Regions from separate parts of the Homo sapiens genome. Here region 2 is linked to region 1. Evidence: fine-mapped expression QTL. A gene starts in region 1. The other region holds a variant in brackets. All regions are shown on one strand. Distances are from middle to middle.

The links. PIP is the estimated chance that this variant, and not a neighbour inherited with it, causes the effect.
Region 2: its variant is the best candidate, but not a certain one, in a credible set for the expression of DENND2C in tibial nerve (GTEx, PIP 0.64).

The regions. Positions count from the first base shown.
Region 1 is chr1:114,666,739-114,672,118 of GRCh38, reverse strand. It overlaps DENND2C (DENN domain containing 2C), which reads left to right and starts at 2,070. Exons shown (of 21, transcript NM_001256404.2): 1 at 2,070-2,136. It overlaps LOC124904354 (a long non-coding RNA gene), which reads right to left and starts at 1,708. Exons shown (of 2, transcript XR_007066465.1): 1 at 1,469-1,708; 2 at 1,165-1,270. RefSeq lists an enhancer at 1,697-1,856 and a silencer at 1,977-2,066.
Region 2 is chr1:114,550,405-114,555,784 of GRCh38, reverse strand. No RefSeq gene overlaps it. Among named protein-coding and RNA genes, the nearest start is that of BCAS2, 29 kb to the left of the region's middle. The variant G/T (reference allele first, on the strand shown) is at 3,327.

The DNA of each region.
Region 1 (5,380 bases):
TCGGCCTCCCAGGCTCAGGTGATCCTCTTACCTCAGACTTCCGAGTAGCCAGGACTACAGGCACATGCCACCACACCCAGCTACTTTTTTGAACCTTTTGTAGAGACGCGGTTTCACCATGTCACCCCAGCTGGTCTCAAACTCCTATGCTCAAGCGATCCATGTGCCTTGGCCTCCCAAAGTACTGGGATTACAGGCGTGAGCCACTGTGCCCAGCCTGAACTTTCAAATGGAAAAAAAATTGAAAGCAAATTTCTGCACGTTTCTATATTCTACACATGCAGCCATAAGCATAGGTGTAACCCTGATGGCATGTTTGTACTAGCTCTGGTGTAAGAATCTCTTCCTGATTTCTGAAGTTGAAGTTTTGTTTGTTGAGTATTTGTGAACCCTTTAAAGAACCAGATTTTATTTTACCTTGGCCTCCTCATCATCAAAATAGTACAAATTGCTACATTAAACACTGTATTCTCAGACTTCAAAGGGCATTAACTACCATTATGTATATCTCCATCTTACCCATGAGAGGGCAGTAGAATACATACATGTGAATTCATTTATTAATCTATAAATTTGGTTTCATACGTGATACTTGGAATTCAACCTGCCTTATTTTGCCAAATAATCTTCCTGAATGCAGGGGTCAAAAAATACATTTCTGGGCTGGGTGCAGTGGCTCATGTCTGTAATCCCAGCACTTTGGGAGGCTGAGGCAGGAGGACTGCTTGAGCTCGGGAGTTGGAGACCAGCCTGGGCAACATAGCGAGACCCTGTCTCTACAAAAAAATAAAAATAAAAATATTAGCCGGGGGTGGTGGTGCATGCTTATAATACTAGCTGCTTGGGAGGCCGAGGTGGGACGATTCTTTGAGCCTAGGAAGTTGAGACTTCAAGTGAGCTATGATTGGGCCACCGCACTCCAGTGTGAGTGACACAAAGAGACCCTGTCTCAATAAATAAATAGATAGACACATTATATAAGAATTTTTTTTTTTTTGGTGGGGGAAGCCCATAATGATCAGTGTGCAAAATTTACTACAAACAATATCCACATTTATTTCCTCATTGGGACATGATTTTTTTTAAGTATGTCATTACTTTTTTTTCCCCCATCATAGAATGTAATTTCTGTTTTACTGTCTACAGGTGATAGTTTCACAACGGTTTGGGATATGCTACCTTTATTGTTTGGGTTAAGTTTGCTTGTGACAGTCATCCGTGATACGTAACTAAACACCTCTCTTTCTGGTAGTCTTCTATTTTGGTACCTCTGTGTGAACAAATGTAGGAAGAGTTTGGTCACCAGACCCAAGAGGCTCTGGCTGGGTGGGGTGGGGTGGGGTGGGGCGGGGCGAGGCGGGGTGGGGTGGTTAGCGAGTGCCTGGGAAACAGGCTCAACTGATCCTTGTCCCGCAGCCTCGGTGAAACTGGGTTACAGCTTGCAGTAGGCACAACACCACGCACATACCTAAGCAAGAGCGTGTTGCAGGCGGAGCGCTTAGGCATGTGTGTCTCAACAGGGCGTGGGGGCTGACCTCACGCACTGGGAGTATCAAGGCACCCCCGTTCTGAGATTCCAAGCCTGAGGTGCCGCGAGAGTTATTTGCTTCTCTTGACGTTTCAAGTTGGCACCGTAGTGCAATTGTTTGCTCACTGAGGTCAGCCTAGGAAACAGTGCTTGGATTCCCTGATTAAGCCAGGCTTTATCTTGTTGAGTAGTTGTGAAGAGTAAACCTTCACATGAAGCATAGGGCCGTCTCCGTGGGGCCGATGCGACGGCAGGCGAAGGCGATGGAGCTCTGGCTCGAGGGCTTGGCCGGACGACGGTGACACTGGTCGCCCGCCTGCTGGAACTGCAGTGACCGAGGTCCTGGCAAGGTTCTGGCCATACAGCGGACTTGAGGCGTGGTGGTTCCCCTCACCGCCGGCCGGGGCGGTGTCGGAGGCGGGCATAGCGTGAGGGGTGGGAATAGGAGCCAATAAGAACTGAGCCTTGCCAGGGAGGGCGGGGCTAGGGGGTGGGGCTGCAGCCGGGACGGGGCCTTCGGCAGGGCCTGCGGGGGCGGGACGGAGCGGACCCGAGTGATACCCGGGAGACTAGCTTGGCCACAGGAGACAACGTTGAGGTACAGACAGGTAAGAGTCGGGGTGATTCGGCGCGGGGTTTTAAGCCGCAGGGGCTTCGGACTCTCGGGGCTGTCGGCATCACCCTTCTGGGCGTCGGGTGCGGGGCTGTGGCGCCGCGGCGTAGTCCTCGGACGGTGCGAGCCGAGCTGGCGGAGGTGGTGTCTCCGCGCCCCGCTGTCTCGGCACCTCCTCCGTCCGGAGGAGCAACCGGTTGTTGGGCCCAGCTTTGGGACGTCCTCTCGTGGCCGCACGGGTTGTGGCGGAGCCTGGCTGAAGACCTCCTCGCTACCTCAGGGGCTTGGGGACCCCTAGGCTGGGCGCCGCTCTCTGCTGGGGAAGAGGGAGGGAGCGCCCGGCAGCCTGGGGAAACGCGGGCTTTCTCCAAAATTAGCCAGTGAGCTTGAACTTCGACATGCTGGGACGATGCACTTCCAAACAATATTTTGCTTTTTTTGGTGTTTTGATTCTTAACAGCATCTAATACGCACAATACCGAAAGTTGTCAAGTAGAATTTTAATTTAAAAGTCTGACAGTGGAACACCTAAGAGCTTTTGAGTAACTAGAGCTGTATAGCAGCTGATGATTAGATTATGAGTCAAAAGGCTCAAGTCTAGGGCCAGAACCCGCGGAACCAGATGTGATACCTCGGCCAAATTAACTTCCTGGGCCTCTCTTTCCGTAACTGTGAAACTGGCAAGTTCATGCCTATGGGTATTCTCAGGGTCAAATCAGATGAGTGACAGTATTCTACAAATGTCAGATATTTGAACGTGCGTGTGGAGCGTGTATATTCTGTGAAGCAACTACTACTTGCCTGGTACATAGTAGGCACTTTACAAACGTTTACCCTAAAGCTAGTGATTCTTCTGCAGTGTTTTAGATAAAGTGATAGATCCTTGCTTACTGTGTAAATAAGTTGTTTAAACTTTTCCCACAAAGTGACCCCCATTGTTTGAGTGTGTCCTATTTTTAAATGATTGATGAAATTTTCTAGAATAGCACAGTGGTGTTATCTATACACTGTTGCTGAATCATTTACCGCGAAGTCTGTAGCAATCAAATAATCTACTTCTTTGTCTTAGCTAAATAGTTGTAGTTTAAGATACCTGCTAAAGTAAGCTGGGAATATTGTTCCAAATCAAGACTTTAATTTGTTTTTGTGAATTGACGGGCTGCTTATAGGAAGATTTAAATCTTCCAAAATATTGTTAATATATAGCCATATTTTTTCATACAGCCTTTATTATAGACGTTTTTGTTCTTTACTATGGATATGTGTGCGAGGGATTTTAGCGGGGAGATGGGAAATAAAAAAGAAAATGGCAGTTTTGTAACCTGTAGGCTTTTGCTGGGGATACTTGTAGGCCTGTTCTGAGTTTGCCAGGCAGAAACCAGGAAATGTAGTAATTATGTGTCTTGGTCTTTCATTAGTTGGGGTGTGTGTGTGTGTGTGTGTGTGTGTGTGTGTGTTGAATGTGGCAGTACGTTTTTTAAATGCAGCAATAAAGGAAGAATATTTATTTTTCTTAATGACAATAAGCAGTTTTCTAAAGCTGGAAATTATATTACTTTTAAATGGTCTGTAGTGAGTCTTAAGTTATAGGCAAGAATTTTAGACCACTGGATACCAAGATCAAATTAAATGAAGTAGTAGAGGGAAAGTTACTAGTGAATGTAATTTTTGTGTGTGTTGCTTTAGAAGTTTTACTTAAACATGTTTCAGCAATTCAGTGGAGGATGGGTCTTTTGAAGCTACTTTAAAACATGAGTTTTAAACGTACTCCATGTATAAATTTTTCTGTGATTTACAATTTCTTGATCTTGGAGGTCTGAAACCTTACATTCACATTGTTTTTTGAGGGCCTACTACACAATAGGCACAAGATTATATTTATGTAAGAGCAGTATGTAATTCCTGTCATCTAGGAGATTCCATTCTACCAAGTGGGCTAAAATAAGTACTGAAAAAACAAAAGCTGTTTTTAAAGCGGATGGTAACAATAACAACATCAGCTATCATTCATTGGTACCTAGTCTGTGCCAGGCAGTATTCTAAATTCTTTACATGTATTAGCTTACTTAATCCTCACAACAGCACCATGAGGGATGTTATTATGATTATCTCATTAAGAGGCATAGAGAGGTTGAGTAACTTGCCCATGATTAGACAACCTAGATAGCAAAAGTAGGATTCAAATCAGTCATTCTCCAAGGACCTGATTGTAACCTTTGCGCTATACTGAGTTTCAAATTCTGTGAGTGAGATACAAATGACATCTAATAGGTATTTTAAAAAGAGGTCTATAAAAAACTATTTCAAAAAGAAGGAAAGAAAGAGGAAAAAATAAACTGGTATTGCAATACCAGTTTTATTGCAATTAAAACGATGTAATTATAGTTTATCTGTGGGAACCCTTTTTTTGTTATTGTTGCCAGTGAATGACATGGGGATGATTCTAAGCTCTCAGTCCCTCAGTAACAACAGTTATGGCATTATCTTAACAATATGAGGTGCTTATTTTTCATTAAAAAGCACCTCATAACTTCTTTCATTAAGAAGTTAAAAATATCTGTTCTCAGACTGTAAATTAAGTATTAGATTCAAGAAGAGAAAATGCTTCCCTGTCTTTAAGAAGCTTATAACCCAACATGTAAATAAGGCTCTACAATTTCAGCATGATAAGAGCTGTAAAGAAGTATAGATTTAGGTACGTTTGAAGAGTTGCAAGAAAAAGAAAGAAGTATAGATAGAATTTAACCACTGATGAGGAAAAATCATTCTGCGTGTGGTAGGGAGGACGATTAGAGAGAAGATATTAAATTTGGCTTTGAAGGATGAATAGGAGTTTGCTGAAATTGGGTCAGGAAACAGGAGATATGAATGAAAACCAGGGATAAGTGTGCAAGTATATGGTATGTTTGAGGAATGTGTTGTAGTCCATTGTACTGAAGGCCAGGGTGTGTAGAAATGGGTGGTTTGGCTAAAGGAGATGGTGCCTGGAAATAAGATGAAAAAATAAAATTGCAAAGCTTCCTTGCTGATTGCATTAGGATCACTAAAATTGCTAGGTAATGTGGTATTTCACTTCCCTTCATTTGGAACAATGAAATGAGTAATTAGTTCAGTTTGGCAGAATGTTTCACTAAAAAATATGGTGTTAAAGGTACTTTTAATACTTTGAAGTACAAGATATAAGATAACATTACAGACTTAGGTAAGTAAAAAGTTAAGATTTAGGGCCAGGCGTGGTG
Region 2 (5,380 bases), 120 kb after region 1:
GTAGCTCGCCACTGCTTCCATGTCTATTCTAAGTCCCAACTAAGTTATATAAGTTGATTAGTAAGGTAGGCCTTGTGCTACCTATCTAAAACCTTACTTCCCATGAATTCCCAGCCGAGGTCTTCAAGTTATCAGGTAGGTGAACTCATACCTTTATTTCTGCCCACATTATTCTTCTCTATCTGAATCCAGCCCAAGTCCACTCTCTTCCTCCACGAAGCTTCTATACACATATTATTACACCTTCCTTCTCTGGATTGCAGCCCACAGGCTATGCCACAAAATTCAACCCTTAATTATAAATGATCTCCATCTCCAGTGGGTTTTGTTTGTCCAGTTTTTTTGTTTTGTTTTGTTTCAGTAGCTGTGCAGAGACTAAGCTCCCCAGTAAACCGAAAATTCTTCTAACCAGGCATGGTTGTGCGTGTGTGTAACCCCAGCTACTTGGGAGGCTGAAGTGGGAGGATCGCTTGAGCTCAGGAGTTCAAGGCTGCAGTGAGCTAGGATTGCGCTACTGCACTCCAGCCTAGGTGACAGAGCAAGACTCCATCTCTAAAAACAAACAAAAAACTAAATTAAGAAAGCTCTTCTAGAGTAGGGGTTGTGCCTTTCTTTCCATAGCATCTATCATGTTAATGGGCACATGGTAGACACTGAATAGATTCAAAGGTTTAGAGACAAAAGTGATTTCAGAGATCACTTAGTCCAACCTGATTTTACAGGTGAGTTAACAGAGACTCAGATTAAGTTGTAATCCTACTTTGAACTCCCACATTACTTTGTTTGTACCTCTTTTATGGTATTTATTGCTTTCTGTTTAGTATTTTAATTATCTTCCTACCTGTTTTACCCATCTTTCTCTGTATTTTCATGGGCTATTTCTCTTCTTCTGCCCATTGCTTGAATGCTGGTGTTCCCTAAGGCTCTGTTTTGGATCAGCTAACCTGAGCAATCCATTCCCATAGACTTTAATTACCACCAGTGAAGTGGATGACTCACTAATCTGTATCTTTAGCCATATCTCTCTCCCCAGCAGTATTGCGACTGACAGCTCCACCTGGATGCTCTGCAAGATTCTCGAACTTGACTTGTTGTCCTTGACTCCTCCCTAATCCTTATATCCAACTGGGCACCAAATCCTATTCATTTACTTTGGAAATGGCACACTAATCCTGATCTGTGTATTCACTGCCACCTGTCATGAATTCAGGTCCTCCTCATCTCTGAATCATAGGAATAGTCTCTTCCTTGTTCTCCTTATAAACTTTCTTGTTCTACTAGTTAACCCTCAAAGCTGGTACCAAAGTAATCTTCCCCCAAAATTAATCTAATAAAGCCATTCCTTTGCTTAAAAATCATTGGCTCTTTGTTCCAATTTTTTTTTTTTTTTTTTTTTTGAGACAGAGTATCGTTCTGTTTCCCAGGATGGAGTGCAGTGGCATAATGTCAGCTCACTGCAACCTCTGCCTCCTGGGTTCAAGTGATTCTCCTGCCCCAGCCTCCTGAGTAGCTGAGATTAGAGGCACCTGCCACCAAGCCTGGCTAATTTTTGTATTTTTAGCCTAGACAGGGTTTTGCCATGTGGGCCAAGCTGGTCTCGAACTCCTGACCTCAAGTGATCTGCCTGCCTCAGCCACCCAAAGTGCTGGGATTACATGTGTGAGCCACTGCGCCCAGCCTGTTACCTAAAATTAAAATCTAAACTTCTTACCATGGCATACAAAGTTTTTAAGAGAAAGGCAGATAGTGGCCAGACATGGTGGCTCACACCTGTAATCCCAACACTTTGAGAGGCCAAGGCAGGAGGATCACTTATGCCCAGAAGTTTGAGACCAGCCTGGGCAATATAGTGAGACCCTGTCTCTATTTAAAAAAAATTAAATAAATAAAAGAAAGGCAGATAGTGAACCTAGCAGTGAAGTCAAACTGCCAGGAGTCAAACTGTCATTTAATAGCTATGTGATATCAGACAAGTTTATTTACTTCTCTGTGTCTGTTTTCCAGGTGGAAAATTAGCACAATAATTCTACTGTATCTGATAGGGTTGTTGTAAGAATTACATAAATTATTACACATTAAATGCATAGAACAGTGCCTGGCACATGTTAGATGCTGCTATTATTTCCAAATCTTGTAAATCTCGTCTGCCTGAACCCCTTCCTCAAACCATATTTAAATTTTCAGCCAGACGTGCTCATGCCTGTAATCTCAGGCATTAGAGATTTACACACCTGTAATCTCAACACTTTGGGAGGCCAAGGCAGGCAGATCACTTGAGGTCAGGAGTTTAAAGCTAGCCTGGGCAACGTAGCAAGATCCCGTCTCTACAAAAAAATAAAGTTATCTGGATGTGGGCACGTGCCTGTAGTCCCAGCTACTCAGGAGGCTGAGGCAGGAGGCCAGCTTCAGCCCAGGAGATCAAGGCTGCAGCGAGCTATGATCATGCCACTGCACTCCAGCATGGGCAACAGAGCAAGAATCCACATCTAAAAAAAGAAAAAGAAAAGAAAAAATTTCCTGTTTCTCTACACCCACCATGATGCATCCTTCCATTTTTTACCCATTTTCATGTGCTTTTTTCTTTCCTTGGAATACCTTCCCCACTTTGTTTCTTGATGAATTTATGTTTATCCTTCAAGGAAGAGGTTAAGGATAGTAGGCTCTCTGCAGTCTTCTCCATGATGCAGAGGTATATTCATCTTTATACAAATTTTTTAAGTTGCAGACATTTATCTCAAAATAGAGTAGGCTGGGCATAGTTGCTCACACCTGTAATCACAATACTATGGGAGGCCAAGGCAGGTGGATTGCTTGAGTCCAGGAGTTCAAGAACAGCCTGGGCAACATGGCGAGATCCTGTCTCTACAAAAAATAGAAATATTAGCCAGGCCTGGTGGCATGTGCCGGTAGTCTCACTTACTTGGGAAGCTGAGCTAGGAGGATCACTTAAGCCTGGCAGGTTGGGGCTGCAGTGAGCTGTGAGTGTGCCGCTGTACTGCAGAGACCCTCTCTCAAAAAAAAAAAAAAAAAAAAAAAAAGAGTAACTATTACCAAAAAAAAAAAAAAAAGGATGAAGTTGAGATATATGCTGGTAACAGAAAGATATTTGTGGTAGGCAGTTTCTACAGTGGCTCCCAATTCCTGCCTCCGATATTAACACCGTTGTATCATCTTTTGTGTGTGTGGGCTGGACCTAGTGACTTGCGTCTAACAAGTAGAATATGGCAAAAGTGATAGAGAGTCACTTCTGAGATTAGATGATAAGAGACTGACTTTCACTCTACTCTCACTCTCTGACTCTTGTGTTCCTTCTGATGAAGCAAGCT[G/T]CCATGTTGTGAACTGCCCTATGGAGAAGTCCATGTGGCAAGGAACTGAGGGTGGCCTCCAGCAGACAGCCAGAGCAAAACTGCACTCCGTGGTCCAATGGCCTGGGAGAAGGTGAATTCTGCCAACAACATGAGCAAGCCTGAGTCTACTGCAGTCCCAGGCGACACTTTTTCTTTTCCTTTCCTTTTCTTTTCTTTTCTTTTTTTTTTTTTTTTTTTTGAGACAGTTTCACTCTGTCACCCAGGCTGGAGTAAAGTGGCACAATCTCTGCTCACTGCAATGTACGCCTCCTGGGTTTCAAGCGATTCTCCTGCCTCAGCCTCCTGAATAGCTGGGATTACAGGCACCTGCCACCATGCCTGGCTAATTTTTATTTTTATTTTATTTATTTATTTTTTTTGAGACTGAGTCCCGCTCTGTCGCCCAGGCTGGAGTGCAGTGGTGCGATCTCAGCTCACTGCAACCTCCACCTCCCAGGTTCAAGTGATTCTCATGCCTCAGCCTCCCGAGTAGCTGGGATTCCAGGTGTATGCCACCACGTCCTGCTAATATTTGTATTTTTAGTAGAGACGGGGTTTCACCATGTTGGCCAGGCTGATCTCAAACTCCTGACCTCAAGTGATCCACCCACCTCAGCCTCCCAAAGTGCTGAGATTACAGGCATAAGCTACCGTGCCTGGCCTAATTTTTGTATTTTTAGTAGAGACAGGGTTTCTCCATGTTGGCCAGGGTGGTCTCGAAATCCTGGCCTCAAGTGATCTGCCCACCTCAGCCTCCCCAAAGTGTTGGAATTACAGGCGTGAGCCACCGGCCTGTTTTTTTTTTTTTTGAGCTGGGCTTTCACTCTATCACCCAAGCTGGAATGCAGTGGTGTGATCATAGTTCACTGCAGCCTTAAATTCCTGGGCTCAAGCAATCCTCCTGCTGGGCAACATTTTGACTTGCAGCCTTTTGAGAGATCCTGAAACAGGAGCCCCAACAAAGCCACATCCAGATTCCTGATCCATAGAAACTGTGAGATAATAAATGTTGTTTTAAGCCACCAAGGTTTGGAGCAATTTGTTATGCAGCATTAGATAACAAATAACAATACTATATTGCTAAGTGAAGGAAGTTGCAAAATAGCATATATATATATATACACACACACACACACTGTCGTCGCATTTGCACATAAAAACACAATTACATGTTTTTTCTATATAGTCACATCTCTTTTTACTAATTTTCACGTTAACTAAGAGGTTATTTGCATTTATGTAAGGTACATAGGGTAGACAAACTCATAGAGATAGAAAATGGAATGAGAGTTGCCAGGGGCTGGGGAAATGGGAAATGAGGAGTTGTTTAACAGGTAGAGAAGAGTTTTAATTAGAGACGATGAAAGTTCTTTGGATGGATGGTGCTGATGGTTGCACAACAATATGAATGTATTTAATGCCAGTGAACTGTACACCTAAAAATGTAGAAAATGGTAAATTTTACGTTACGTATATTTTACCATAATTTTTAAAAACCACAAAATGGGGAAAACATTTAAAATGAGACAATCTAATAATTTAAAAGGTTTTTATATATTACATTTTTTAAAAAAGATCCTATTCACCCTTTTTGAACAAATTCTAGTGTCTACATTGCAAAGGTTATCCTCTGACCAACTTAAAACTTAGGGTTTTAAGAGGGATGGTACGCCTGAAAAATCAGCCTTCTTTTCTCAAGTTCACATTCAGCAATGGGCTGGAGTTATCACCAATTACTTGCACTTAGTGAGCAGGCAGACACATAGCTACCATTTCCAGTGCTAGAGGGGAACCAAGGCTTTAAAAAAAACTCTAAGAGAATGGCAAGAGAGCTTCTTGAAAGATCTGATGGTATCTCAACCCTCATCAGGTAAATTCAGCAAAAGTCATCTGACCTCAGGGGGGAACCTGCAGAGCAGGGAAGCTGACCTCTCTATCTGAGTATGCGGCTGTGTCCTCTATGTTTTCAAGCTGTTAAAATTCTTGTGTGTTTACCTACATTAAAGAAACTTGTATTGTTGGCTTGGCTCTGT